3 separate regions of the Homo sapiens genome follow, and all the other regions are linked to region 3. The links come from fine-mapping of genetic effects on gene expression. A gene starts in region 3. Each other region holds a variant in brackets. All regions are shown on one strand. Distances are between the middles of the regions. Region 1 holds the start of VNN2 (vanin 2). Region 2 overlaps VNN2 (vanin 2). Region 3 holds the start of VNN1 (vanin 1).

Region 1 (10,715 bases), 42 kb before region 3:
CAGGCTGGGCTCGAACTCCTGACCTCAAATAATTCGCCCGCCTCGGCCTCCCAAAGTGCAGGGATTACAACCATGAGTCACTGCGCCCACCCCAATACTGTTTTTTTTTTTTTTATGGTGACTCTTTGACCAAATAATTTTTAATTGATTTTAACTTTTTACCCCTTTAGCTAAGTTCATTAATCCCAAAATGGCAAATTAGGAAGTAGGCTCTTTTAGCAACGAATTACAATTAATCAATGTTCCCTGTGGCAAAATAACCTTACTTTATTTTATAATTCAGTTAAACTAAAAATTTTAATCTTTACCTGATCAATCATCTTTATGAAAAGTCAACTATTGAAACTGTATGTCCTGAATTTGGTTTTTTACTTCTGAAGATTTAAAACAATATCAATGACCTCTACAGCAAATATTTTCTTCACATCTCAGGGATTTTCCTATATTTAAATTGCTCCTTCATTTACTAACTTCTAATTCTTTTTTGCAATTACCTTTGTTACTCAAATTCTCAGTTTCAATGAGACAATTTTTAGATGCTTCAAATAAAAAAACAAAGGAGGGAATTTAGTCATCTTGATTTTATATCAGAAGTGATTTTCCCTTTCCCTGTTAGCCAAACAAAAAATCCAAAACTCTGATCAACATCATTTCTATCTTTTACAGCCAAGGACAGAGAAAAACATCCAGATTTGGGAACACAATAACAGATATGATTGTCCCCACTTCTACTGCCAAAATTATAAAACTGTTAACTCCTCCTCATCAGCTTACCTGACTACTTAAAAGCAAAAGAGTTAATTAAGTATTACTAATTGGTGATACTAGATCAATGAAGGTAGGTCATGGCCCAAATTGTACTTATGGAGATGGAAGAGCTTAATTGTTTTTATTAGGCATCAACTGCATCAGAAATTTCATTAGCACTTAGCAAATTTGCCTATGGTCTTCTTAAGGTGATCATTTTGAATTGGGTTCTTTAAAAGACATGAATGACTGGCTGCAGTGACTGACACCTATAATCTCAGCACTTTCAGAAGCCAAGGTGGGTGGATTGCTTGAGCTCGGGAGTTTGAAACAAGCCTGGGCAACATGGTGAAACTTCCTCTCTACAAAAAATAACAAAAATTAGCCTGACATGTTGGTGCGTACCTGGTGTTCCAGCTACTAGCGAGGCTGAGGTGGAAGGATCACTTGAGCCTGGGAGGTGGAGGCTGAAGTGAGCCATGATCATACCACTGCACTCCAGCCTGAGCAATAGAGCAAGACTCTGTCTCAAAACAAAAAAACAAAAAACAAAAAAACCCCAAAAGACACGAGTGTTCAGACACTCAGTTGCAGACATTAAAAGAGAGCACAGACACATGTGCTGTTTTAGGTATAAAGGAAAGACTCTGGAATCAGGAATGAGAAGCGAACATCCTGCTCTGTCGCTCTAGCTCTCTATGCCTCAGATTCCTATCCTGTAATAAGTGGGCATTTGGGTTACATGATTTCTAAACTCTAACAGCACTCATAATCTATTATATACCAATCACCTATGCTAATTTACTAATTATACACTAGATAGTATGGTTATATACTAACAGTCTATTATACAATCTGCTAAAAATTCATAAAAATATCTATCCCTTTACATTTTCCACAAAAGGGCTTGACCATTTTTCCTGAATTATTTTTAGTTTTCTGCTCTATAGAGATAAGAAAAGTTATTCCTTTAATAGAAACTTCTATTCAAAGCAGAAAATATGAGCAGATCTTATTTATAGCCCCTAGGCCCCATTCTTAACAAAACATTTATCTCAGTAAGAAGGAAAGCACAGAATAAACTTTGTTTAATCGTACCTACTCTTCTATGCTGTCTAAAAGCATTTCCGTGACTTTTACCAAAGGGCTGGATAAAAATAAAACAAATCCTTTATTTGGCAGGATTGGGCCTGGGGAAGGGAGAATATGAATGTCCTAAGAAGGCATCTGAGATCACATCCTGTATTTGTTGTTATTATTGTTTTTTTTTTTTTTTTTTTTTTTGAGACGGAGTTTCGCTCTGTCGCCCAGCCTGGAGCGCAATGGTGTGATCTCAGCTCACTGCAGCCTCTGCCTCCTGGGTTCCAGCGATTCTCCTGCCTCAGCCTCCCGAGTAGCTGGGATTACAGGCGCCCACCACCACGACCAGCTACTTTTTGTGTTTTTGGTAGAGATGGGGGGTTCCACTATGTTGGCCAGGCTGGTCTTGAACTCCTGACCTCAGGTGATCTGCCTGCCTCGGCCTCCCAAAGTGCTAGGATTACAGGCATGAGCCACTGCACCTGGCCTGTTAGCATTGTTTTTAAACTCATTGTTGTTATTTGCTGCTAACAAAAATGTAAGTTACATCTTCTCCTTATTACAACACAGATGATCTTTATCACCAATCCTGGACTCTTCCCCTTCCCTGGCATCTTCCTCCAAAGCAGGGGGTGGGGAGGGAGGAAAAAGAAGGAGGAGAAGGAGTAGGAGGAGAAGGAGAAGTAGGGGGAGGATGGGGAGGGAAGGGTGAAAGAGAGAAAGAAGGAAAGAAGCGGAGTATCCTGAGGCCTGGGGCCCCTGAGCTGAGATTCCTCCTCTGGCCTAGGTGCCTCGGGGTATTGTTGCTGTAGGCACTAACTATACAGCAGTGAACAAACCAGACACAAAATCCTGCTTTTCTGGAGCACATGTTTTCAGTCCTTAATAGCAATAAGTAAGTCAGAGTGTAGATTTGGGTAAATTTTGTTATCAATATTGTCCTGTGTTACATTTTCTTAGTAGTAAGTATTTAATATTTTCCCCCCCGTCTAAAAATAAACACAATGTAAGTGACTCAACAGAACCAAAAAAATTGTTGTCAATTTTTAAATTTAATAAATGAGATATTTGTTGGGATGTGATTTTTTTACACGAGAGTTAGTTATGAGTTTCTATTAACAAAAGCTGGAATTGTTCTATATTTGAATTCGGGTGTCTTTTGGAAATTCAATATTAAATCTTAGTACTAATAGTACATGCTGTTCAATCCCTGTAATACTTTCTGATTGTCTTAAATGGACTGCAACTTTTCTTTCTTTAAAAGTGGTCAGATATATTGCGTTCTTAAGATTATAAAGTAGGCCAAGTGCAGTGGCTCACGCCTGTAATCCCAGCACTTTGAGAGGCTGAGGTGGATGGATCACAAGATCAGGAGTTTGAGACCAGCCTGGCCAATATTGTGAAACCCCATCTCTACTAAAAATACAAAAATTAGCTGGACGTGGTGGCGCGCACCTGTAGTCCTAGCTGTTTCAGAGACTGAAGAAGGACAATCGCTTGAACCTGGGAGGTGGAAGTTGTAGTGAGCTGAGCTTGCGCCACTGCATTCCAGCCTGGGTGACAGAGCAAACTCCGCCTCAAAAAAAAAAAAAAAAAAAAAAAAGAAGAAGAAGAAGAAGAAGAAGAAGAAGAAGAAGAAGAAAAATGATGATAAAGTAAAAGGCCAGTAACTGGCAGCCACATGTTATGCAAACATTCTCCCCTCTGTAAATACTACATGAATGTTATTTTTGCTTTCAGAAATCACTAAACCTTGGCCATGGTCACTTCCTCTTTTCCAATCTCTGTGGCAGTTTTTGCCCTAATAACCCTGCAGGTTGGTACTCAGGACAGTTTTATAGCTGCAGTGTATGAACATGCTGTCATTTTGCCAAATAAAACAGAAACACCAGTTTCTCAGGAGGATGCCTTGAATCTCATGAACGAGAATATAGACATTCTGGAGACAGCGATCAAGCAGGCAGCTGAGCAGGTATTCTCTTATTTCTGTTAATCATAATGTACACGAGGGGCATGGGAGCTGGTGGAAGACGAGAGAGCTGAATTGTCTGTGTTGTACATGGAAAAATCATTTTTATTTTGCTTGTTTTGAACAGGGTGCTCGAATCATTGTGACTCCAGAAGATGCACTTTATGGATGGAAATTTACCAGGGAAACTGTTTTCCCTTATCTGGAGGATATCCCAGACCCTCAGGTGAACTGGATTCCGTGTCAAGACCCCCACAGGTATTTTAACTATCTTAGTCTTTTGTGCAAAAGTAACTCTCTAAAATGCGCACGTTCACCAAAGCAAAATGATTGCTCTTGAATTACCATATATGTGGTATATGTTATGGTTATATTTATCTCAACATTTGTCAGATTTTAAAAAATTGTACTTAGATACTATTTAACAATCTTTTGTGATTGAAAATCTTTATTAAATTTTGAGAAAATGTGTAAATAGGGTATTCCTGCAAGAAAAACTAAGGGAAGAGATCTCATAGATACAAGTAGTAACTTAATTTCTGAAGTAGACAGTGGATTGTGTTAGGAATACATTCCAAAGCCTCTGCTGAAGGGACACCCTTTCAATGTTATAGAGTCTCTCCATTCCAGAGTTGCTTCTTAGGCAGAAAGACTTCACCATGTATTTTCAAGTGAATCATAAGACCTTATGCTTTGAAACTGCATTTTCCTAGGCTCACAAATCTAATTTTCCTGGGAAAAGGTTATCTAGAAACCTTCTAATATATATTAAAAATCTGGGTCCTACTGTCATCCTGGAGGTGTCAACGTGGCAGTTGCATGGACAAGTCTGGCATGAAAAGACAAAATTATATCTGGAGATAGAAAATCAAATGTCAGCATATAGATGGTGTTAAACACCATGATGAGTTCACCTGTGGAGTGAGTTAGAGAAGAGTTTAGGTATAAGGCTTGAGCACTAGGAAATTCTAGTGTTTAGACTCGGAAGAAAACGAGGAATCAGCAGAAGAGTCGAAGAAGAGCAACCAATAAATAGGAAAATGAGAGGGTGGGTCCAATAGAGAAGTGAGGTGTTTCCAGAAGGAGGTGTAATTAACTGTGCCAACTGCTGTTGAAAAGTTAAGATGAGATCAGGTAAAATGTGGGGGTCACTGCTGGCATTAGTAAGAGTTTGGGTGATAGAGATACAAG[T/C]TGGAGTGCTCTGAAAGGGAATGGGAGAGGAGGAACTGGCAACAGCAAGAGGGACTGATCTTTTGAGGAGTTTTGCTTTAAGAGAGAGATGAGGATTAAAGCAATATTTGGAAGGGCATGTTTGGAAAGGTCAAAAGAGGTTTTAATTTTATTTTTTAAAGATGGGAGGTACTAGAGGATATTTCATTGCTGATGGGATGTTTCAGTAGAGAGGAGACCCTTGATGAGGCAGGAGACCGAATAATGAATTTCTGGAGCAATAGATACCGTGTGGGAAGCATTCATCAAGTGTATAATCATCTGTGGCTTTTAAAGTATGATATTTTTAGGCATAGTTTTTGTATTAACTTAAGTTCCACTTAAGTGGTTACAGTTGCTATCGTTTCCATATAAAGTGACTAAAATATTTTTTTAAAATTGAAATTTCTTAATTATAATTTGGTTTAGATTTGGTCACACACCAGTACAAGCAAGACTCAGCTGCCTGGCCAAGGACAACTCTATCTATGTCTTGGCAAATTTGGGGGACAAAAAGCCATGTAATTCCCGTGACTCCACATGTCCTCCTAATGGCTACTTTCAATACAATACCAATGTGGTGTATAATACAGAAGGAAAACTCGTGGCACGTTACCATAAGGTAAGAGAGAGTGACGGACGTGTAAAATGGAGCGTGTTGTGAGTGGTCAATGCTGGGTTTAGGAGTTTGAATTTCATTCCCTATATGATACAATATTACTAGAGGGTTTTTTTGTTTTGTTTTGTTTTTTGTTTTTTGAAAGTGGGCAATAAAGAAAATGACACTTTTGGCTGGGCGTGGAGGCTTATGCCTGTAAGCCCAGCACTTTGGGAGGCTGAGGCAGGTGGATCACTTGAGGCCAGGAATTTGAGACCAGTCTGGCCAACATTGTGAAACCCCGTCTCTACTAAAAAATACAAAAATTAGCGGGGCGTGATGGCACATGCCTGTAGTCCCAGCTATGTGGGAGCTGAAGCAGGAGACTTGCTTGAACCCAGGAGGTGGAGGCTGCAGTGAGCCGAGATTGTGTCACTGCACTCCAGCCTGGGTGACAGAGGGAGACTCTCAAAAAAAAAAAAAGAAAAAAAAGAAAAAGAAAAAAGAAAATGACACGTTGTAAAAAACTACTCAGAAAAACATGTAGGCAGAGAACTGTTAAAAAAAAAAAAAAGTAGCATGATGGTCCAGGATTGAGATAAACTTTTTGCACATATAAAACAAATAATTTTAACATAAAAAAAGATACTAAGGTGACTATAATCTGGGCACTGTTTCAATAATTTTATATTTTTTTAGAGACAGGGTCTCACTGTTGCCCAGGCTGGAGTGCAGTGGAGCCATCATGGCTCACTGTTAACCTCAAACTCCTGGGCTCTAGTGATCCTCCTGCCTCAGCCTCCCAAGTAGCTGAGACTGTAGGCATGTGCCACCATGCTAATTTTTAAATATTTTTTTGGAAACAGAGTCTCACTACATTGCCCAGGCTGTCTTTGAACTCTTCACCTCAAGCAGTCCTCCCACCTTGGCCTCCCAAAATGCTGAGATTAGAGGCATGAGCCACTGAGCACAGCCATAATCTAAATACTATTTAATATTGAAATGGTAGAAAGATGTTTCAAAATTGTATGAATCAGCTTTGCATAAGTTAATTTGCTATCAAACCACAAAATACCTTATTTTCTACACCAGCTAATTTAATTACCATCTTATAGATTTAAGATCAAACCATAAAATGTTTACTTTAAATTCTGAATTGAAAAAAGGAATCAAATAACCTTTAAGTCATAATTTTATACTAAACTAGGTAGAGAAAGAAGCCTGGCCTTTTAAATGGATATGTGTGATGTACAGGCAGTATGAATGTCCCTTCTCCACACCCAGATATTTTGTAAGCATCTTAAACTGTAGCCTCAGAATCTTTGGAGTGGAGAAATTATCTCCTGGCAGTCTCAGTTAAAATATAAATATTAATTAAGAGGAGGGATGTTAAACCAATGGTTTTCAAATGATTTCGATCATGGACCCCTATTGGAAAAAATCGTTAACATAAGTCCTCAATATATGTATTTTTGTGTGTGTATTTATAAAGTGCAACAATTTCAAAATGCTTTCTTCATAATTTTGTGGATTTTGACAGCTTCTTTTCATATATATCACTGCATTTCACTTTCTTCTTAAAATGTGTCTCATAGTAAAAATAGAAAGGTCAGTGCTTCCATTTTCTTGCTTGGGAGATTGTTTGCATTATTTGTATTATCTTTCAATGCAGTTTATTTGCAGTAATCATTTGAAGCTATTCTGCCATTCTGTAAATATGCAGGATGGCACAGTGCACTGAATGTGGACAAACTAGCAAGGAACCTGCAGTCACCCTGTCTAAGTTGAAAGGCTCTCACTCTTCCCTGAGGGTACCTCAGGGACCGTTTGTAACCCATGACCTCTGACATATGTGAACCTAATGAGAATACCTTTGTCGATCAATTCCTTTTTTTTTTTTTTTTTTTTTTTTTTTAGGCAGAGTCTGGCTCTGTCATCCCGGCTGGAGTGCAATGGCACGATCTCAGCTCACTGCAACCTCTGACTCCCAGGTTCAACCCATTCTCCTGCCTCAGCCTCCTGAGTAGCTGGGATTACAGGTGCATACCACCACACCCGGCTAATTTTTGGATTTTTTAGTAGAGATGGGGTTTCTCCATGTTGGCCAGGCTGGTCTTGAGCTCCTGGCCTCAAGTTATCTGCCTGCCTTGGCCTCCCAAAGTGCTTGGATTACAGGCATGAGCCACCTTGCCTGGCCTGTCAATTCTTAAAATAGTAGTAAAGCCCAATTTCTTTTCTATTTTTTAGATATTTTTTCTACACTGCAGACCATTTTATTAACTGTTGATTCCATTTATTATATTAGACTAAGTTTTTTTTTAGTTTACCTAGAAGGAATCGGGAAATTAAATACATTTCTATGGTAATTTTGAAAGGTGGGCAAGAGTCACTGAGATTACTTTGGATGGGACACTAAAGAGAGAGATGACATCTCTCACCTGACTTACAGGTATTTATTATGCATCTATTAATATTACGTTTCTAGGCACCAAGGATTCAAAGAAGAATAATGCATGTTTTTTAACTTTTAAGAAGCTTATAGGGCCAGGTGCTGTGGTTCATTCCTGTAATCCCAGCACTTTGGGAGGCCCAGGTGGGTGGATCATGAGGTCAGGAGATTGAGATCATCCTGGCTGACACGGTGAAACCCCGACTCTACTAAAAATACGAAAAAATTAGCCGGGCATAGTGGCACGTGCCTGTAATCCCAGCTACTCGCTTGAACTCAGGAGGTGGAGATTGCAGTGAGCCGAAATCATGCCACTGCACTCCAGCCTGGGTGATAGAGCGAGGCTCCGTCTCAGAAAAATAAAATTAAATTAAATTTAAAAAAAGCTTACGGACTTTGGGGTTTATGGGGGGGTATTTGGCTCTTAACTGAGAGAGAGGGAAAGAGAGAGAAGGGAGAGAGAGGAGATGAGAGATGCTATGGACGTATGTTACATATTCCTCCACATTTTCCTTAGAAATTTACTTCCAATTGCCAGATTTATCCGCTTCCTAGGAGATTCCCTGCAGTTGACCATAGCCAAATCTGTTACCAACTTAGAGGGTTTTTATGAGTCATTTCTTCAACAAATAAGGTTTTACTGGTTTTCTCCTATCCATTTGTTGTAGTACCACCTGTACTCTGAGCCTCAGTTTAATGTCCCTGAAAAGCCGGAGTTGGTGACTTTCAACACCGCATTTGGAAGGTTTGGCATTTTCACGTGCTTTGATATATTCTTCTATGATCCTGGTGTTACCCTGGTGAAAGATTTCCATGTGGACACCATACTGTTTCCCACAGCTTGGATGAACGTTTTGCCCCTTTTGACAGCTATTGAATTCCATTCAGCTTGGGCAATGGGAATGGGAGTTAATCTTCTTGTGGCCAACACACATCATGTCAGCCTAAATATGACAGGTAATTCATGACCAGGTTAGGTTTCATCTTATATTTTTAAGTGCAGAGAAATGAATGCCTCAGTTATGACTTGTATTAATTTTTTGCTTATTGGAAATTCTTACTGTGTTTGTCATAGTTTCACAATAGAAAAAAAAAGCTAGCACTTGATTATAAGCTATGGTTATACTAAGACCTTTATGTGTATTATTCATTTAATTATTACAATAATTATATGAGATAGATAGTGTCATCCCAATTTTGCAGATGAGAAAATTGACATACAGAGAGTGCAAGTAATTTGCCAAATGCTACCCAGCTACTACTTTCCTCAGTGGCCATGGAAGCCTCTATATCTTGCCCTTTGTCTCCTCCTATGGCTGCATGGCATATCCTCGTGACATGGCTGCTGTCTTCCTCTAGAGCAATTAATGAGAGGGGACAAGAGAGAAAAGGAAAGAAGCCACATTGCTATTTATGACTAGTTACCCACCATCACTTCTGCCATGTTCTATTCATTGGAAGTGAGTCACTAAGTCCAGCCCCTCTTCAAGGGGAAAGGAATTAGATCCTCCCACCAGAAAGAAGAATTTTAAGGAATTTTTGGATATATTTGAAAACCACCACAATGAGGAATAGGGGAGAATTTTTATTCCCTTTCCCCACCTTTCAGGAACTCCTGACTACAAAGATTTTTGTAGTTGGTTTAATTTTCCATAATGCTAATAAATAATGCTATTATATTTAAGGTTTAATTGAAATGAGACCAAGGAATGTTTATTTTAATCTCTTCCATTAGAGAATAGAAGTAGTTAGGTGTTCAGTGCAATTAGAAGCATGTATCCTCTCTCATCGTGACTAATATGGTGGCGTGATCACATGCCCAATTCTGATGGGGAAATTGGCAGTTTTGGTTTTTTTGTGTGTGGTGTTGTTTTTAGAAGACTTGTCTTTCATTCACAGGAAGTGGTATTTATGCACCAAATGGTCCCAAAGTGTATCATTATGACATGAAGACAGAGTTGGGAAAACTTCTCCTTTCAGAGGTGGATTCACATCCCCTATCCTCGCTTGCCTACCCAACAGCTGTTAATTGGAATGCCTACGCCACCACCATCAAACCATTTCCAGTACAGAAAAACACTTTCAGGGGATTTATTTCCAGGGATGGGTTCAACTTCACAGAACTTTTTGAAAATGCAGGAAACCTTACAGTCTGTCAAAAGGAGCTTTGCTGTCATTTAAGCTACAGAATGTTACAAAAAGAAGAGAATGAAGTATACGTTCTAGGAGCTTTTACAGGATTACATGGCCGAAGGAGAAGAGAGTACTGGCAGGTAATTTCAGTTCAAATGAAAGGGCATTCAAGTGAAAGGTAAATTCCAGGTTAACTTTTTATATTTGTTCCAGAAAACCAGGTGCTTTTCCTTGGCTTGACTCCATGCATTGATGGCAACACACACACACACAACACACACACACACACGTGCATTTATGCACGTACATACACTGGGATAAAATATTTACAATGGGAATTAAGTATAATCTTATTGCTTGCTTTAAGCATATTTAAAAAATTATTAACCTAACCATGATGAGTTTCGATTTGACTAATAAACCAGCCTACTGTGGAGAACATCAAGAAGACTTCCTTAAGTGGGTTTGCCAACATATCTAAATTATAAACAGTCTTATTTTCACTTGCAAAACTAACAGTAAATAGAGAT
Region 2 (10,715 bases), 26 kb before region 3:
AAGGATGTGATGTATAACTCTCTGGTTCCTGATTGTCTTGCACATAATCGAACTCAATGAATTGCTGCTGCTGATTTTGACTTTCCATTAATGGTTACATTTGATTGTTGAAACTAAAATCTTGGGCCCTCTTGAATTGCTCTAGTCTTCATTATGTAGTAAATGGCTGTCCCCTGCCTGGCCTACTTGCTGCATCCTCCTAAATCAGAAATGATTTGACTATACATTATATCTAGGATGGTTTCAAAATGATTAATTTGCTTTTAACTTCTATGTTAAGAAAGCTGACTGTACTTTTCCCACCTTTTCTTTAGGTGCTGAAAGATGGGCGTTTGGTAAACAAGAATGGATCATCTGGGCCTATACTAACAGTGTCACTCTTTGGGAGGTGGTACACAAAGGACTCACTTTACAGCTCATGTGGGACCAGCAATTCAGCAATAACTTACCTGCTAATATTCATATTATTAATGATCATAGCTTTGCAAAATATTGTAATGTTATAGGGCGTCTCTTTATCACTCAGCTTCTGCATCATATGCTTGGCTGAATGTGTTTATCGGCTTCCCAAGTTTACTAAGAAACTTTGAAGGGCTATTTCAGTAGTATAGACCAGTGAGTCCTAAATATTTTTTCTCATCAATAATTATTTTTTAAGTATTATGATAATGTTGTCCATTTTTTTGGCTACTCTGAAATGTTGCAGTGTGGAACAATGGAAAGAGCCTGGGTGTTTGGGTCAGATAAATGAAGATCAAACTCCAGCTCCAGCCTCATTTGCTTGAGACTTTGTGTGTATGGGGGACTTGTATGTATGGGAGTGAGGAGTTTCAGGGCCATTGCAAACATAGCTGTGCCCTTGAAGAGAATAGTAATGATGGGAATTTAGAGGTTTATGACTGAATTCCCTTTGACATTAAAGACTATTTGAATTCACCTAGTTTTCTGTGCTAATGTTTATCAGGAGATTTACTTTCCAATCAAAAGGCAATGTCGACATTTATTTCTACAGTGAACGTAGTTTTGAGTGCTAGAAGAATTGATGGCTATTCCAAGTTCATATCAAAGGAGACCTGACCCAGGGCACTCATAGCCCCAGCTGTCCCACCTTAAGGCTATGGCGTAATTTAACAGGCAGAAATCTCATAACACAAAGACCATGACAGTTAAAAGTTACACTATTTTCAGCATTTGGTTGACTTTTTACAAAATACACATATTCCATGCTACTTGAAGTAAACTAGTATATTTGTTATTGATCATTTAATTCAGATACTCTTAAAATTAAAGAACTGATTTTGAATTTTCAGATTTATTTTCTGATTTTTATCTCCCAAAGTATTTTTAAATTCAATACTTTTACATAAAAAAACACAATTGAAGCATTTATCTTTTGTTTTTACATATTGTCATAAACCTACTTATGGATTTGATTTTAAAATTCTACTAAAATACACTAGAAAAGTAAGATTCCTTTTATAATCTCGTGGTTAGTATTAAGAGAAGAAATATGGAAGTTAAGCCACACTTTGTATTTAATTTTGAGAAGAGCATACATATTCCCTATGTTCAGCATTGGGACATCAAAGATGGCAATTTTAAAGCTGTAATGAACGTGCATTTGTGTATATAGTCCAAATCATATAATCATCAAAGTTTTATGCTCTTTTTTCTTTTTCTTTTTCTTTTTTTTTTTTTGAGACAGAGTCTCACTCTGTCACCCAAGCTGGAGTGCAATGGTGGGAGTTCAGCTCATTGCAACCTCCGCCTCCTGGGTTCAAGTGCTTCTCCTGCCTCAACCTCCCAAGTAGCTGGAATTACAGGCACCCACCACCATGCCCGGCTAATTTTTGTATTTTTAGTAGAGATGGAGTTTCGCCATGTTGGCCAGGCTGGTCTCGAACTCCTGACCAGGTGATCCACCCACTTTGGCCTCCCGATGTGCTGGGATTACAGGCATGAGCCACCATGCCTGGCTTCTTTTTCCTTTTCATAAAGTATGGGACATTTAAAATTTGCCAAGTTTTGCTTGAGGAAGTTAGATGTTGTGCAGTGGTTTTGCAGCATGTATTTTGGCTCTTGGGCAATGACGTTTCATTTGCAGAAGTTTAGATGTTGATTGAAAATCAACAGCTGACGTTAAACAAACTGGTTTGAGTAAGATACAAGCAAGGAGCTCCTTTCACAGAAAGGGACAGTTCTGATTCAAGCTTGGAGCTCTCAGCTGTACCTCAGTTTGTTAAAAATAAAAACAAAAAACGAAAGCACCAAGTGCCAAGGAAATTAAAGAGCACTTAATGCTCTACTGTAAAATTGCCTGCACCACATTTTAACCCATCTCCACCGTGGTTTCTCACATACATTTTATTTTATCAAACAACCCAAGCATAGTTTCATTTGGCCTTTATATTTCTTTGATAACTATCTTTCATCCCATTTTATTTTATTTTTACTTATTTATTTATTTATTTTTTGAGATAGAGTCTCGCTCTGTTGCCCAGGCCGGAGTGCAGTGGTGCGATCTCGGCTCACTTCAAGCTCCGCCTCCCAGGTTCACGCCATTCTCCTGCCTCAGCCTCCTGAGTAGCTGGGACTACAGGCGCCCGCCACCACGCCTGGCTAATTTTTGTATTTTTAGTAGAGACGGGGTTTCACCATGTTAGCCAGGATGGTCTCGAACTCCTGACCTCATGATCCGCCCACCTCGGCCTCCCAAAGTGCTGGAATTACAGGCGTGAGCCACCGCGCCCGGCCTCATCCCATTCTAAAATTTCATGTTAGTTCTTGAGTCCCTTGTGGTTCTGGAGATAGTAAACAAAGCTCTTATTTTCTCCTATTTGGCTTTCATTAGGCTTTTTTCCTGAAATGCTCTTTTACAACTTCCTGGTTACAGCCCCCTGTATTACAAAGTCACATGCTCAGCAGCAGCCTTCTCTCAGGGCTCACTACCTAGCCTTCCTTCATTCATTCAGGAAGCATTGATCACTTACTATATCCCAAGCACTAAGTACTGAGACAGTGGTCTATGCATTCTCTTTGCTCCCTTTGCCACTCTGTGACATTGCCCCCTTTGATATGATCTATTTCCATAATTTCTATGATATGCTCACAACCTGCTTTGCAACTACACTGCCCCTACTTTCTACTTTCTTTGCATTTTGACCTGTCCTCATAGTGTTGGCTCATTGCTCTGTACAGGTGATTTCTGTCAGCATTCTTTCTGTTTTGGCCTCTTTCCTAAATTCTTTTTACATTTCTAACTCCATTCTGACCATCATTCCAAGATAGTCCATGGGTGATAATGTTCTAAAAGATATCTGAGGCTGGATGCCTGCTTAGGTCAATATGGTTATTATACCCACACCCACACTCACATGCTTACACTGAGCCACACGCAGCTACTTCCAATGAAAGCATTCCTGAGAAGACATTTGGACAAAGAAACAGGGACAACTGTGAAGAGGATTTCTTGAGTATGTAAATAAGACAGAAAGTACTTGGAATGGGAAAGAAAACATGCCTGTAATCCTGGTACTTTGGGAAGCTGAGGAAGGAGGATTGCTTGAGCTCAGGAGTTCAAGACCAGCCTGAGCAACATGGTAAAACCCTGTCTGTACCAAAAATACAAAAAGCCAGCCAGGTGTGGTGGTGTGTGTCTGTGTTCTCAGCTACTCGGGAGGCTGAAGTGGGAGGATCACTTGAGCCTCTGAGGTCAAGACTGCAGTGAGCTGTGATCACGCCGCTACACTCCAGCCTGGACAAAAGAGCAAGATCTTGTGTCCAAAAAAAAAAAAAAAAATCAACGATTTATTTGAGAATTTCTAGACCACGTGAAGCTAAGTCAAAGGAGAAAAATAATGAGAGTGAACTGACTAATTTCAATTTACCTGTCTTCAAGAATTCTGTGACATCTTATATTGTTTGAATATGGATTGAACAACCCTGCTAAAAGCTTTGATCAGTTATGTTATAAACCTTTGCTTCCCTGTTCTGTTTCATTTTGCATTTCAGAAATTAATTTTAAAAATACTGCACATCTACTACCATCTGATCTTTGACAAACTGGACAAAAACAAGCAATGGGGAAAGTATTCCCTATTTAATAAATGGTGCTGGGAAAACTGGCTAGCCACAGGCAGAAAATGGAAACTGGACCCCTTCCTTACACCTTATACAAAAATTAACTGAAGATGGATTAACGACTTAGATGTAAAACCCAAAACTATAAAAACCTTAGAAGAAAATCTAGACAATATCATTCAGGACATAGGCACAAACAAAGATTTCATGACAAAAACACCAAAAGCAATTGCAACAAAAGCAAAAAATGACAAGTGGAATCTAATTAAACTGAAGAGCTTCTGCACAGCAAATGAAACTATCATCAGAGTGAACAGACAAACTACAGAAAGGGAGAAAATTTTTGCAATCTATCCTTCTGACAAAGATTCAATATCCAAGAATCTACAAGGAACTTAAACAAAAATTTTGCAATCTATCCACCTGACAAAGGCCCAATATCCAGAATCTACAAGGAACTTCTTTTCCACAAGAAAAAAAACAAACAACCCCATTAAAAAGTGGGCAAAGGGCATGAACAGACACTTCTCGAAAGAAGACATTTATGCAGCTAACAATCACATAAAAAAAAAAAAAAACTTAGCTGGGCATGGTGGCTCATGCGTGTAATCCCAGCACTTTGGAGGCTGAGGCGTGCTAGTGCTATGATCAATACAAGGACCAGAAATGGATCAATTCTACCTTGGAAGACCAGAAGGATGTCACAGACAAGCAGAATAAGATAATCAGGGCATTCTCAATAGAGTTAGTCATGCATGCAAAGACATGGAAGTATGCTTCAAGCAGTGTTTAATGTATTACGGAGGAAGAGGATGCAAGGAGGAAGGATAAGGACAGACGATGTAAAAAATAAGACTAGAGAGATAGTCCAGAGTCAGTGTTGAAACACAAATGAAGTCTAGACTTTATCCAGAAGCTGAGAGAAAGACACATTGAAGAGTTTTAGAGTCAAGTAGCCATGAGGGACTAAACAGTTTAAAAACTAGATAAATTTGATGGCTTTTTGAAGGATGGAGTGGAGAAAGAAGTTCTAAAGGCAGAGTGGCCAGGAAGGAGCCAGTTGCAGCAGTCCCCTCAGGGTAGTGGAGACAGTACAGGGACATGCTTGAGGAACAGCAAAGAAGTCAATGCAACTGGAGCCGAGTGAACATGGGAAAAGTAGTAGGAATTGTTAGAAGTGACAGCTTATAGTGGTTTTTTTAGGCATTGTAAGAACTTGGCCTTTTACTCTGAGTAAAATCGAATGCCACTGATAGGTTTTTTTGTTTGTTTATTTGTTTGTTTGTTTTTTGAGATGGAGTTTCACTCTTGTTGCCCAGGCTGGAGTGCAATGGTGCAATCTTGGCTCACTGCAACCTCTGTCTCCCGGGTTCAAGTGATTCTCCTGCCTCAGCCTCCTGAGTAGCTGGGATTACAGGTGCATGCCACTGTGCTCAGCCAATTTTGTATTTTTAGTAGAGACGGGGTTTCTCCATGTTGGTCAGGCTGGTCTCAAACTCCTGACCTCAGGTGATCTGACCGCCTTGGCTTCCCAAAGTGCTGGGATTACAGGTGTGAGTCACTGCACCCAGGCCATTGATAGGTTTTGAGCAGAGGAATGATATGATTAGTCTTATATTTTGATAGAATGGCTCTGATTGTTGTTGTGCAAAAGTAGAAGTAGTGGTACAAAAACCAGGTGCAAGGGTTTGGGAATAATCCAGACTAGTGATAATGACGGCTTGGACCACAGTTGGTGTAGTAAAAGACCACTTGCTTGAACGTGTGTAGAGTGAGAGAGACAGAAAGAAGTAAGGGTGACTCCAAGGGTTTTGGCCGGAACAAAAGGGAGATGAGAGAAGCCGTTAATTGAGATCTGAAAGACTGCTGGTGAAAGAGCATCAGGAGCAGAAGGTCAGGAGCTCAGTTTTGTTCATGTTGATCAGATAAGCCTTCATACAGTCAAGTGGAGATTTTGAGTAGACTGTTGCCAGATATAAGAGTCTAGAGTTCTCAAGAGAGGTTTGAGGTAGATATATAAATCTGTGAGTCACTAATATTAAATATATAGATGGTATTTAAAGAGATGAAATGGATGTAATCACCTAGGAAGTGAGTGTAGATAGGAACAGAAGACTTCCAAAGGTTGGGCTCCAGGGTGCACCAGTGTTGCCAAGTCAGGGATGATGAGTAGAAACCAGAAGAAAAAGTCCAAAGAAACAAAACAAAGTAAACAAATACAAAAACTAAGAAGAAAGAAAGAGGAAAACTAAAAGGGTGTGAAGAAGAAAGTACATTAAGAATGGGATAATGGCAGCTTTGTCAAGTACTACCAAGACATTGAGTAAGATGACATTGAGAATTGACCATCAGACTTAGTAATAGGGAGATTAATGGGAACTGGACAAGGCAGTGAAGTCATGGGGGTAAAATCCTGTCCATTGGGAGGACAGGAATTGAGGCAAGGAGTACATACCATCGTGGAAAGGAATTTTGTTATAAAATAAAGCTGAGAAATGGAGCAGGAATTGGAAGGGGATGTCAGATCAAAAG[G/T]CTTTTTTTTTTAAGATAGAAAATGTTACAGGATAGTTGTAGAATATATAATAGGATATTTGTGTTTTCTTTATTGTATCCAATAGAGAAAGAAAAATTGATGATAAACAGTAATGGGGCTGGGCACGGTGGCTCATGCCTATAATCCCAGCACTTTGGGAGGCCGAGGTGGGTGGATCACTTGAGGTCAGGAGTTCTACACTAGACTGGCTAACATGGTGAAACCCTGTTTCTACTGAAAATACAAAAATCAGCCAGGCATGGTGATGTGCGCCTGAAAGCCCAGCTACTCGGGAGGCTGAGGGAGGAGAATTGCTTGAACCTGGGAGACGGAGGTTGCAGTGAGCCAAGATTGGGCCACTGCACTCCAGCCTGGGTGATGGAGCAAGATTCCATCTCAAAAAAAAAAAAAAAAAGGCCGAGCATTGGTGGTTCACGCCTATAATCCCAGCACTTTGAGAGGCCGAGGTGAGCAGATCACTTGAGGCCAGGAGTTTGAGACCACCCTGGCCAACATGATAAAACTCCATCTCTGCTAAAAATACAAAAATTAGCCAGGTGTGGGGGGCAGATGCCTGTAATCCCAGATACTTGGGAGGCTGAGGCAGGAGGATCTTTTGAACCTGGGAAGTGGAGGTTGCAGTGAGCCAAGATTATACCACTACACTCCAGCCTGGGTGGCAGAGTGAGACCCTGTCTCAAAAACAAACAAACAAAAAAATAAACAAAGTAAGAGAGAAGAACTTCTAGAGCAATGTCCTTGGGATCCAGTGCTCAAAGATAGGGGCTAGACTTAAGTAGGGTCAAGAGGAGTCATTTACAGTAAGGATGGGGGGAGGCAGAATTTACAGGTACAAATGGCTGGCAGGTGGGTTGATACTTGGTGGGAGCTTGTGGAAAGGAGTTCTTTTGAGTTGGATAAATAGGCCTGAAGTTCAGAACGGAAGTTTGAGCTAAAGATAGAGACACAGTCATTATCCTTTTGTAGAAGATAGTTGAAGGTATGAAGTAGAAAAAAACCTGGGGCCAGGGGAGAGGGTAGAGTAAGGGACTGAAAGACAGTGAACAACAATGTGGCTACTGGCCATAAGTGCATTAAGAGTTTAGAGAAGGGAATAGCAACAAGACTGGAGAGGCAATGGATTTGAGCTCGAAAGGCAGGATTTGGTCAGAATCATTCCAGGATCAGAGCAACAGTGATCATGTTACAATAAGAAGAGTACTTTTAGCTAAGAACACAAAATATAAAATGGAACCAAGAGAAAGAAGGCTCTTACTGTCTGCTTTGATTCAATATATGCATGGGAAGTATCTTAATTAATGACAGCAATGGTCAAGGGAACTCTAATGGATTACAGTATTGAGGGTTAGGGTGGGAGGAGTGGGATCAGAGAGGCTGATGGAGAGCCTGAAAGAATTCTTATTTATGGGGTCAGGAACTTGATAAGGAGAATGGAGAGGAGGTTTTACAATGAGTTTAGAAATAAAGATTTGGGGAAAGCCAGTAAACTCTTAGATATTTTATTACAGCACCTCTCCTTTAAGATGTGTCCCTTACATATTTAAAAGAAGAATTATATTTATTGTAATACAAAACTTCTGACTCTAAACTTCTTAATCCTACAATAATGCCAGACTGTCATAAGGATTATGTACCAATACAGTGTTTCAAATAACTCATAGCTGCACGCCTTATACACCTAGGAAGCAAAGACATTACTAACAACATTGGGTAATCAAATATTTAACTCAAGTTTCTATTGATTTCAACACACAAAAAAAGCTGGTACATTTCCTGGAACTAGGGGCTGGGAGAATGAAGGGGAATTCCCATATGTTTCCTTTTGATTCTATTCAGAAAGTCAGGTGAACCAAGAAAAGAGTTAGAATTTCAACTTGAAATATGAAAATTATTTTCTTCTCATCCCAGATCAATCCATCTGTTTTACATAGTTTCCCTCTTCTCCTCAGAAATTTTTTTGGAAAAGAACTTATGTCTGATGTCTGATGAAAACAATTTATGTCAGACATAAACTCAGAATTTAGGGCTGAATTTATGTTCATATGTCCTTATTTCCTGAAATGGTATCAGGGCATAAGGACATATGGAAACACTGTGGGGTATCTGGGAGCAGAAATATTTGGATAATGGAAAAGTTTATTGAAACCAAGGGACTTTGAATTATAGAAACAAACCAAACCCAAAATAGACACAAATCTCCATAACTTACAATTTTCCTTAGATCTTAGAAAGAATCTCAAGAGGGAGAAGCAGTGTTAATTGTTCTAGAATCAGAGATTTAAACCTTAAAAAAAATTCTACATTTTAAATTAACTGATATTCAAACAAGGAGATTCAATCCAAAATTGGGCGAGGGAAGTGAATTTAACTAATCAAAAAACATTTACAGAGCTTAGCACAGTATAAAATTCTATAGAAGCAGCAGAGAATTATAATGTGACCCTGCCCTTAAGGGACTTATAAGGATGATATGTTTAAAAAATAAAAGAATTAAAGGAGAACTTAACACTTTTTGAATTATTGATTAGTCTTCATATGGAAGCGGGTTTAAACTGTAGAAGACAGGTAAAGTAAATTGCATCTCAATAACAAGAATGTTCTTAAAATTGGCAATGTTCAAAGGTGGAATAGACTGGCCCATCAGGTAGTAGATTCCGTCATTCAACATTCATTCATATATTGAGCTTTCACCATCTGTCACACATGTGCTGGGGTGATGAGGTTCAACAGTGAGCAGGACACTTCCCTTACCCTCCAGGGGCCACATCCCAGGATACATCATCTCTGTCTAGATGTTTATTGGACATGGATGTTCTGAAAGAAAACAGCAAGTTTCTTTTTAATCTCTTTAAGAAGACAAAACATACATATATAATATTAAGTATTGGTATAATATTTAAATTAAAGGTCAAGACAACAGCAAGGAGTGAGAGACATTCAGCAGCACAGAAAAAAATGCTATAGGAGTTCAGAAATATCACTTAGGACTGGAGTGGATTTGGGAGGACTCTAGGGGGAGCTGGAACTTAGACGGATGGAGAACAAGGGCTTTTCAAATAGAAATGGCCATACAAATATGTAAGTAGAGTGCTCAACAAATTGTTGCTATGATGACTACCTTCCAATATTGGCCCTATTAATAGAAATGTTGGCTTACCAGGAAAATTTTTTTTTATTAGAAAAGACTTCAACTGCCAGTGTGTTTTGGACTGGGGTGAATTCATCTGGTTGGCTCAATCTTTTAGTGTTGACTTGACTCTGAACAATGTCAACAACTGCACTGTACACTTGAATCAATCCAATTACGTCCTGGCTGTCAGTTTTCTTGCACAACATCCTTTCTCAATGCTGTGTTGTGTAATATATGTGCAAGAAAATATAAACAGCTGATTGCCAGGAGGGATTTAATGTAAAGTTTTTCCAGTGAAACAAAACGTAAGAATCTGAGTTTGTTTTTCAAAGATCACTAAATTTTAGTTATGATTATATCACATTTTCCAAAATGTGTGGCAGTTTTTGCCCTCCTTGCTCTGAGTGTTGGTGCACTGGACACTTTTATTGCTGCAGTATATGAGCATGCGGTGATATTACCAAACAGAACAGAAACACCTGTTTCAAAAGAAGAAGCTTTGCTCCTGATGAACAAGAACATAGATGTTTTGGAGAAAGCAGTTAAGCTGGCAGCGAAGCAGGTATTACCCTTTTATACTTGTAAAGGAGACTTGCAGTTTGGTCAAAGAGTATTTGGAATTCATGACAAACTTTTTTGCCCCACTTGTTTCGAGCAGGGTGCACATATCATTGTGACCCCAGAAGATGGAATCTATGGTTGGATCTTCACCAGGGAGAGCATTTACCCCTATCTAGAGGATATACCAGACCCTGGAGTGAACTGGATTCCATGTAGAGACCCCTGGAGGTAATATCATATCATTAATTTCTAAACAAAAAGTTGTGATTTGGTAAAACACCAACAGTAAACTCACTGAATTTGACTGGTAATTGTGTTGATAAATAGTCAATCTGTGGCATAGGATGTAGATGCTTTTTTTTCCCTGTAATTTCAACTTTTAGCTTAGAT
Region 3 (10,715 bases):
TCTATGGATAGTGAAGCCACTCTTATGGCTTTAATTAATATTTCTGATACAGCAGAGTATAACTCACTGGTAAACAAAAAAATTTTTTCTTTCATGAGAGCAAGTTCAAGCCACATCATCATGTTTACAGGCTACATTAACAATGCAAAAATAGTTTTATTAAGTCCTATGCAGAGATATGTATTATTGTAACATTAGCAACTTGTGATATTACAGTTCCTGGCTTATAACTCCCATATCCTTTGTTAGGGTTTTTTTTTTGTTTGTTTGTTTGTTTTAACATTAGGGGGTTTTAGGCCTCAGGAGCAGGCCTCATGAAACAGAATCTCCCTCTCTGACCTTACCCTGTCCTCCCTTTACCTACCTAAGGCAGGACTATAATCTGATTGTGGCTCAAAAGACCCTCATTTCAGAGAGGGTCCCACCCCATACCCTAGAGGAAGAAATGCTATAAAGAGATGTCAAGACAAACCTGAACAGACAAGCTTTACTGGGTTTCCCCACTCAAACTGTTAGTATGGGATCATAACCTTTTTGTCCAATCGCATTTCTACATGGTTGTCAATCGTGACTATGTAATGAAGCTTCCATAAAAACCCAAAAGGACAGGGTTCGGAGAGTTTCCTTACAGCTGAACACGTGGAGGGTTCCTGGAGGGTGGCACACCTAGGGGTGCGTGGAAGGCTCTCCAGTCCTTCCCCCATACCTTGCTCTATGCACCTCTTCATTTGTATCCTTTGTAATATCCTTTACAATAAGCCACTAAAGGTAAGTGTTTCCCTGAGTTCTGTGAGCCACTCTAGCAAACTAATTGAACTAAAAAAAAAAGGGGTCATGGAAACCCCAACCCAGAGCCATTTGGTCGGAAGATCTGGAAGCCCAGACTTGTTACTGGTGGGAAGGAGGGGGCGGTTTTGTGGGACTGAGCCCTTAACATGTGGGATCTGATGCTATCTTTGGATAAATAGTATTTGGATTGAACTGGAAGATAGCCAGCTGATGTCTGATGCAGAGTCAATTGCTTGCTTTCTAGTGGGGAGAAATCTCCACCTACTTGGGAGTAACCAGTCTTTTGTGTTAGTTGTTGTGCTATGAGACCAGAGGAAAAATGGATTGTTTCTCCTAAAACCAGATTAATGTCAACAAAAGAATTGACATTGTGTTGTAGCCACTAAATATTAAAATATGGGCGTATATTTTGAGTAGCAATGCAGAGGCCGACTGCCAATCAATCTTTTATCAGACACAAGTATATGGACACACTTTTACATGCTGTGCACATGGCTTTTCAGAGTTCACCAGGTGAAGTGCAAGAGGCAGTGCCCACTCCACTCAGTCCTTGCTCTTCCCTCCTTTTCCCTTGTTTCTGGTTCTCTCTGCGTAAGCTGGGCAGGACTTGCTTCTGAGTTCCTCTGGGGACCTGCTGCCTGGGGTGGGGTGATCACTGCTGTGCTAGCAAAATCCAGAATACTGTGGGTCTTGCCCTATTCTGGACAGTGCGATGTCATGTTTTCCTTGCAAAAGGCAATCTGCTCCATCTATGCAAGTTTGGTTGGAGGAGTCTGGAGGTATCAATTAGGGCTTTTGTCTACACTCAAAGTCATTTCCTTGGAGACAATTCTCCCAGTTTCTACTTTGTGTGAGCAGAAGGGCTGCATTTGGGGACCTTGGCTGGCTGTAGCAGTAGGGTTAAGGATCCAGAGAACCAGCCTAGGAGTTGTAGTAGAGGCTGCTGGTGCCTCCCAGTTCCATGTCCTGCTGATGATACTCTACTGCAAGAACTGCACTGTTTCTATTTCTATTTCTTTCTTTCTTTCTTTCTTTTTTTTGAGACGGAGTCTCACTCTATCACCAAGCTGGAGTGCAATGGCGCAATCTCGGCTCGAGGCAACCTCCGCCTCCCGGGTTCAAGCAATTTTCCTGCTTCAGCCTCCCGAGTATCTGGATTATAGGCGCCCCCGCCCCCCACACTGCTCCCTTCCATGCCCAGCTAATTTTTGTATTTTTAGTAGAGACAGGGTTTCTCCATGTTGGTCAGGCTCATCTCAAACTCCTGACCTTTGGTGATCCTCCCGTCTCGGCCTCACAAAGTGCTGGGATTATAGGCATGAGCCACCGCGCCTGGCCGAACTGCATTATTTCATCTGAAGATTTGCTCTCAGCTAGTACATGCTAAGTAGGCCAGAAAGGGTAGATTCATGTGGCAGTGACATGCTGGAGGAGGGACAAGGTTATTGGTCCTATGATTTAGTCTCAGTCTTTTAGTGAGCCTGTACCCCTGGGTTTATGAACTTCACTTGGCTTTTTTCTTCTGCCATTAGTTGGCATAAAAACAAGCTAGAGATGAGATTTTCCCTTTCCCCAAGTTAAAGATTAGAGTGGCTGGGGTTGGCATTTTTCCTTCCCCTAGGTAGGTTAGGCTCTGGTAAAATACTTTACTTTGAGGGCAGGCTTTTGTTAAGAAGAACAGACCAGAACTCTCAAGGTTGTCCACCCTGAGCCTCCACCAATTCGTCAATTACAGTTCAAGTGAACCCACGGTACTGGCGCCAGCCGCAGAGGACTCTGCTCGCAGTACACTCTTAACCTCTGTATCTGCCTATCTCTGCAGTTCTGAGGACCGCAGTTTATCCTGTGATCTCAATTCTCTGATGCATCCTAGAAAAGTTGTCGATTTTCATTTGTTTAGCTTTTTTCTTGGTGTGAGCATGGGAAAAATGACTGCCAAGCTCTTTATGAGTTGGACTAGAAACTCCACGGGAGGTTTAATATTTTTAATCTAAGAAGGTCAAGAAGTAATTTTTTAACCTCTTGCCAACTCATCTCAGTTTTAACTTTTATTTCAGTGCTTCCTTTTACAAATTGTTACATAATAATGACATCTTTTTGTGAAATATGTGGTATTCCCACCCACCTGGGCATGGAAAGGCCCTAAGAGGTCAGCAAGCAGTTAGAGAAGCTGGTGTTTACCGGAAACTCAGGAGAACCAGCCAACCACAACCCCTGGGTTACCTTGGCAATTGCAGAATAAATGCATTATAGTTACTAAAGTAAAAAATTAGATATGCCTGTTTGCAGATTGAACTATAAAAATACCATTCAAAGACAAATAGATCTAAAAATAAAATGGAAAAACATAAACACTAATTCTGTAAATATTATACTTAATGCACAACTGAAACAAAATTTGCCAGCTTACTCAATATCAAAATCTATGAACAGTTTTTCTATTTTATATAATTTCCCTCTCCTCTCTCTGGATCTCGCTCCCCAGCTCATTTTTTCTTTTTTTTGCTCTGATTCTTTATACACCTCTGTTGCCTCTGTGATAAGCAGCTTCAAAGATGGTTCCTAATGCTTTATTGGATAGAATACAACAAAAGCGATGAGGTGTTGCTTCCCCAATTACATTACGAAGCATCCGTGGCTTCCATCTCCAGTGGGTTCACTTGCTGTCTGGCTCTAAGGGAATCCAGATACCATAATGCGGGCTGCCCTATGGTGAGGTTTGCATCACTAGGAACTCATGTCTCTGGGCAACAACCAATGAGGTCTTGATCCCTGCCGTCAGCCACATGAGGGAGCTTGGAGCTCGGAAGTGAATCCTCCTGGAGTCAAGCCTTGATATAGCTAGCCCTGGCAGCTGCTTGACTGCAGCCTTGTGAAAGAGACCTTGGGCCAGAGGCACCAGCTAAACTGCCCCTGGATTCCTGACCCAGAGAAAGTGGGAGATGATGTATTTTTGCTTTTTGAAGCTGCTGAATTTGGGGATAATTTGTTATATAGCAATAGAAAATGAGTAACTCTTTTGTATTCCTCTTTGTCCTGGCTTCCCCATTTTGAGGAAAATAAAGTAAATCAAAGTGTAGAGCTGAAATATTCACATGAAAATAATAATAAAGTTTTAAAATTATTTGAATGTCTTGTGTTGACATTCCAAAATATATGAATTCCAAAAATTTATATGTTGAAGTCCTAACTGTCAGTATCTTAGAATGTAACTTTTTTGGAAAAGGGGTCATTTCAGATCTAATTAGTTAAGATGAAGTTATACTGGAGTACAGTGGGCACTAAATCGAATTGGTCCTATGATTGAGTCTCAGTCTTTCAGTGAGCCTGTACCCCTGGGTTTATGACCTTCAGTTGGCTTTTTTCTTCTGCCCTTATTTGGCATAAAAACAAAGCAGGTGGATCACCTGAGGTCAGCAATTTGAGACCAGCCTGCCCAACACGGCGAAACCCTATCTCTACTAAAAATACAAAAAATTAGCCTGGCGTGGTGGCGGGCGCCTGTAATCCCAGCTACTTGGGAGGCTGAGGCAGGAGAATCACATGAACCCGAGAGGCGGAGGTTGCAGTGAGCCGAGATTTCGCCACTGCACTCTAGCCTGGGTGACAAGAGTGAAACTCCATCTCAAACAACAACAACAATAAACAAACAACAACGATGACAAAAAAAGCTAGAGCTGGGATTTTCCCTTTCCCTGTGTTAAAGATTAGAGTGGTGTCCTCACAAAAAGGGAAAACTTGGATACAGGCACACACATGGGGAGAATAGCATATGAAGAGACACAGGGAGAAGGCAGCCATCTATGGGTCAAGGAGAGAGGCCTGGAACACATCTTTCCTTCACCGCCCTCAGGAGGAACCAACTCTGCTGACACCTTCATCTGGGACTCCCACCCTCCAGAACTGCAAAGCAATAAATTTTTTATTTTTTACACCACCCAGTTTATTGTATTTTGTTAGGCAGCCCTAGCGAACTAATGTACATAGAGTTCTTGAGTTAATCTTCACAAATTACTGCAATAAGGTAGGGTCTTTTGTTATGTAACAATGCTATGAAATCATAGCGTTTTCTTAATTAACTTCCGTAGTTTAAGGTACTAAGTTCTGGACACCACGTGTCTTCTTTCTATAAATACCAGGACATGCTCTGTTTTTCAGCACTCATTGGACTTCAGCATGACTACTCAGTTGCCAGCTTACGTGGCAATTTTGCTTTTCTATGTCTCAAGAGCCAGCTGCCAGGACACTTTCACTGCAGCTGTTTATGAGCATGCAGCGATATTGCCCAATGCCACCCTAACACCAGTGTCTCGTGAGGAGGCTTTGGCATTAATGAATCGGAATCTGGACATTTTGGAAGGAGCGATCACATCAGCAGCAGATCAGGTACCATCTCTACCATCTCTCCAGTGTACTGGATTCTATGAGAAAGGAGGGGGTCCTAGGAGACAGGGCCACTGTCAGGGTCAGTTACACTTTTAGATGATATATGTATCAGAGTAGCCAAGAACCTTTATTTTACAGTTAGAATTCTACTTTCCTCTCAAAATTAGAGCAAGGACTTCCCTAAAAGTAAGAACAAAGTTAAGAAAAGAACAATTTGCTCATTATCAAGAAGCAGCAGACCTTTGAGGAACTGGCCATAAATTCAACATCTTTGTTCCCCTTTTCTGGTACAGATGGAGGATGGAGGATAAATGGGTCAGGGACTAGGTGCTATTTTCAGAGTATTAGTGGCCTTCATGTACTCATGTGCTATTAAGGCTTTGCAGGTTTTCGAATAAATTTATAATCTGAAAACAAATTTAAGTTTTCAATTCCTTGCCAGCATGCATTATATACTTCACACTTCATTCTAATTACAAGATAAAAGTATATGTAATGCATTGTGAGTCCTTAAGTTTAGTGAAGGTTTCAGTTTGAAGTTAATCATACAGTATAAATTGTGGTTTACACAAATATTATTTTAAAAGCTATTGATCGATTAGGTGTAGACCAGGAATACATGAAGTGTGATAAAAGTCATGGATAAATGTGTATTACATATATCTATAAATATATATTCTTTTGTGTTGTTGAGTTAAGGTCTCACTCTGTCACCCAGGATGGAGTATAGTGGTGTGATCACGTCTCACTGCAGCCTTGACTTCCCGGGCTCAGGTGATTCTCCCACTACAGTCTCCAGAGTAGCTGGGACCACAGATGCATGCCACCGTGCCCAGCTAAGTTTTGTATTTTTTGTAGAGATGGGATTTTGCCATGTTGCCCACGCTGTACTTGAACTCCTGACCTCAGGTGATCCACCTGCCTTGGGCTCCCAAAGTGCTGGGATTACAGGCATGAGCTACCGTGACTGCCCTATATTCTTATATATACTAATATTTAAAAGGTTATCAGGAGTTCTGATGTTCTTTTTCATCCTTAGTCCAACTATTTCCTTGAAGGTCACAGAGCTTTTTAAGGTGACTCTCTAATTGGAAGGTGCCCAGGTTAGCTCAGGCAGTACTTGTAGGCATGGGACAGTTCAAGTAACCAGTTTGTGGCTCCTCTTTTTCTGAGAAGCAGGAATCATGTTTGCAGGGGAAAGCTAGGGCAGAGGAGGAAATAAACAGAATATTTAAGTTATTAATCAGTCTTGACACAGGCACAGTCATCAGCGAAAGTTCAAGGAGAGGCTTGGTTCCAGGATAAGCTAGGTTTATAGTTAACGACTGCCATAGGAAACAACAATGGCAGGATTAGAAAATTAAAATGCTTGACTAAGCCAGGTGCGGTGGCTCATGTCTGTAATTCCAACACTTTGGGAGGCTGAAGCAGGCGGATCACCTGAGGTTGGGAGTTCAAGACCATCCTGACCAATATGGAGAAACCCCATCTCTACTAAAAATACAAAAATTAGCCAGGCGTGGTGGCAGATGCCTGTGATCCTAGCTACTTATGAGGCTGAGGCGGGAGAATCGCTTGAACCCGGGAGGTGGAGATTGTGGTAAGCCGAGATCTAGCCATTGCACTCCAGCCTGGGCAGCAGAGCGAAACTCCATCTGAAAAAAAAAAAAAAGAGAGAAAAAAAAATGCTTGACTAGAAGCCCAAACCTCACCATTATGTAACATATCCATGCAACAAACCTGCATTTGTACCCTTTGAATCTAAAATTAGAAATAAAGAAAAGAAAAGAAAAAGAAAAAGAAGTGACAGTGCACTGAAAAAAAAGGAAATTAAAATGCTTTGGAAAAGAAAATAAATTATAAAAATATAGAAAACAAAATAAGATTTAAGGGGTGTGGGGGAAGCCCAAATAGTTGTTACTCAGCCACTCAGCTCCTCAGCTCCTCTTGCAGGCCCCCCTTTGGATTAAGTTGCATTTTTAACAGGGTGCGCATATTATTGTGACTCCAGAAGATGCTATTTATGGCTGGAACTTCAACAGGGACTCTCTCTACCCATATTTGGAGGACATCCCAGACCCTGAAGTAAACTGGATCCCCTGTAATAATCGTAACAGGTAAAGAAACAACTTGTGAAAAATTCACTAGTAAACATCAACTTGATTTACCTGGGAAAACTTTGTTGATGATCATTGCATAGATCCATGATCAATTCTTAAGTTTCAGTATAGCTTATTTTTCATCTACTATGGGTATATTTACTGGGAGAGCAAATATGAATTATGAAGTCACAGAAGTCAGAGCTAGAAAGTAGCTTAGAAATCATCACATTCAGTGTGAACATCTCTGGTCTCTGACTCCTCACCAGTGAACAGAAAAATATTTCCCTGTGTAGGTCTGTGATTTGAAAACTATATGAGTAAATGGCAAAAGAGAGTCACATCAGTTTAAGATTAATAGTTTTCCTTTCTCATTGCTAAGATAGCTGATGAGGTTAATGTAGTAAAGTCCTTAAAGTGTAAGCTGATTGTAATCTAAGAGGTGATATGGCAGGATTTTAAGTGGTTTAAGTCAGGTCTCGGCTACAGAGATATTAAGTGTGGTGAAAGCAGCACTATTAATTTTAATGTAAGGAAACCAATATCTTATACACCTAAGAAAATCATGTCGATTCACATACTTCTTTCTGAATACACATGGCTAAAATTATTTTAGGAATTCCTCTTTTGGAACTATTCTCAAAACCGCACAACGCCAGTTAGAATGGTGATCATTAAAAAGTCAGGAAACAACAGATGCTGGAGAGGATGTGGAGAAAGGGGAACTCTTTTACACTGTTGGTGGGAGTATAAATTAGTTCAACCATTGTGGAAGACAGTGTGGTGATTCCTCAAGGATCTAGAACCAGAAATACCATTTGACCCACCAATCCCATTACTGGGTATATACCAAAGGATCATAAATCATTTTACTATAAAGACACATGCATGCATATGTTTATTGCAGCACTGTTCACAATAGCAAAGACTTGGAACCAACCCAAATACCCATCAATGGTAGACTGGATAAAGAAAATGTGGCACATATATACCACAGAACACTACACAGCTGTAAAAAAGGATAAGTTCATGTCCTTTGCAGGGACATGGATAAAGCTGGAAACCATCATTCTCAGCAAACTAACACAGGAACAGAAAACAAAACACTGCATGTTCTCGCTCATAAGTGGGAGTTGAACAACGAGAATACATGGACACAAGGAGGGGAACATCACACACCGGGGCCTGTCGGGGAGTCGGGGGCTAAGGGAGGGATGGCATTAGGAGAAATACCTAATGTAGATGATGGGTTGGTGGGTGCAGCAAACCACCATGGCACGTGTATACCTATGTAACAAGCCTGCATGTTCTGCACATGTATCTCAGAACTTAAAGTATAATAATAATAATACTAAAATTAAAAATCCCACAGAAACTGGCTGGGTGTGGTGACTCATGCCTGTAATTCCAACACTTTGGGAGGCCGAGGCAGGAGGATCACCTGAGGTCAGGAGTTTGAGACCAGCCTGGCCAATTTGGCAAAACCCCATCTCTACTAAAAATACAAAAATTAGTGGGGCGTGGTGGTGGGCACCTATAATCCCAGCTACTTGGAAGGCTGAGGCAGGGAGAACTGCTTGAACCTGGGAGGCAGAGGTTGCAGTGAGCCAAGAGAGTGACACTGCACTCCAGCCTGGGTAACAGAGCTAGACTCTGTCTCAAAAACAAACAAACAAACAAACCCACAAAAACTACTTACAGAGACACCTTGATTTTGACAAGGTGGATTTTGATAAATTCCAGTGTTATTTATCATAATCATTTACTCTATTCTTATTTAATTGTACCATAATTATTTCTTATTTAATCATGTCATATGTCAGTGCTTCAGTTTCTAAAAGGCAAGCACTCTATTATCACTTCCACTATGAATTGAATTGACTTATTTCTGAATGGCCTTTCCCTAGAACCTCATCTCCAAGGGCCTCCTGAACATCCCCACAAGGATGTCCCATTCACTTCATTTCAAGGAACACGGTTGCCCATTTATGTTTTCCATCAACTAATGATGTCTGAATGTCTTGCCTTAATTCTCTCTGTCTCTCTCTCTCTTTTTTTTTTTTTTGAGAGAGAGACTCTGTGTCGCCCAAGCTGGAGTGCAGTGGCGTGATCTCAGCTCACTGCAACCTCTATCCCCCAGGTCCAAGCAATTCTTGTGCCTCAGCCTCCCGAAGATGACAAGTGTGAGCCACAACACCCAGCTAGTTTTTTGTATTTTCAGTAGAGATGGGTTTCACCATGTTGGCCAGGCTGGTCTTGAACTCCTGGCCTCAAGTGATCCACCTGCTCGGCCTCCCAAAGTGCTGGGATTACAGGTATGAGTCATCACGCCCAGCTGCCTTAATTTATTAACTCTGCAAATTTTTTTTGAGTACCTATTATGTCTAAACATTGTTCTGGGCAATGAAGTGAACAAAACAGATTAAAAATTCCTGTCCCCTTGAAATTTATATTCTAGTGTGGGGAGGTAATAAATGTTTTAAAAAGATAATTATCTATCTATCTATCATCTATCTATCATCTATCTATTATCTATCTACCTATCTTTATATAGGTATCTTTCATCTGTCTACCTATCTATGATATGAGGTGGAAGTAAATGTTATGGAAAAAATAAAGTGGGGAAGGTGAATAGGGTGGCAAGCGTGGGGCTGAAATTTTAAAAGGTCGTCTGAGGGCATCACAGTGAGATTTCAGCAAAGACCTGAAAGAAATGAGGCAATAGATCATGTGAGTATCTGAAAAAAGTGCATTCCAGGCTGAAGGAATTCTAAATTCCAAGATCCTGTGGTCAGAGTATGTGTCTAACCTATGGAACAGAAAAAGGGTTAGTGTGGTTACAGTGATGTGACAGAAGAGGAGAAAAGTAGGAAATGGAGGCAGAAGGGCAGGAGGAGCGCAATGTTGAGAATAGACTCCAGGGTATAGGTCACCAAAGAAGCAGAGGGCAGTTCAAAAGCTGTTGTGATCATTATGGCATAGAGATGATGGGTCTGAGACCAAGAAATGGTAGAAGTTTAGGTATTGAGAAGTGGACAGATTCCGAATAAAGTTTGAAAGTAGCACTGGCAGGTTTTGTTGAAAGACTGGATGTAGGATGTGAGAGAAAAGGAGGACTCAATATCCTTCCCTGCTCTCATAGAATCAGATCTCATCTTATTGAGTATGTTTGAAGTATGCACATAGTTGATTGCTTTCTCTTCTCATATTCACCAAACTTTTGGGACCTACATCACCTCTTAGACTGAGCGTTAAAGGAACAGGCTCTCATCACTTTTCTTTTTTATTTAATTTATTTAGCATTTATATGTCATATCGTTCCAGAAGGATTTGAAGTTTCTAATTATATCTAATATAATTAAAAATAGGATACTTTAGTTCTAACAACAAACTAGAACCCATATGAATAGAGGAAGCAGTTGTTATGAGGCATCATGGTAA

The links.
Region 1: its variant is fine-mapped to the expression of VNN1 in whole blood (INTERVAL, PIP above 0.99).
Region 2: its variant is fine-mapped to the expression of VNN1 in whole blood (INTERVAL, PIP above 0.99).

What each region holds. Positions count from the first base shown.
Region 1 is chr6:132,750,755-132,761,469 of GRCh38, reverse strand. VNN2 (vanin 2) reads left to right here and starts at 3,566. Exons shown (of 7, transcript NM_004665.6): 1 at 3,566-3,799; 2 at 3,924-4,054; 3 at 5,435-5,627; 4 at 8,721-9,009; 5 at 9,952-10,325. The coding sequence starts at 3,587. RefSeq lists an enhancer at 1,030-1,219. The variant T/C (reference allele first, on the strand shown) is at 4,988.
Region 2 is chr6:132,734,091-132,744,805 of GRCh38, reverse strand. It overlaps VNN2 (vanin 2), which reads left to right. Exons shown (of 7, transcript NM_004665.6): 7 at 315-936. The coding sequence ends at 506. It also overlaps the pseudogene VNN3P. Among named protein-coding and RNA genes, the nearest start is that of VNN2, 18 kb to the left of the region's middle. The variant G/T (reference allele first, on the strand shown) is at 6,613.
Region 3 is chr6:132,708,286-132,719,000 of GRCh38, reverse strand. VNN1 (vanin 1) reads left to right here and starts at 4,946. Exons shown (of 7, transcript NM_004666.3): 1 at 4,946-5,175; 2 at 7,162-7,292. The coding sequence starts at 4,966.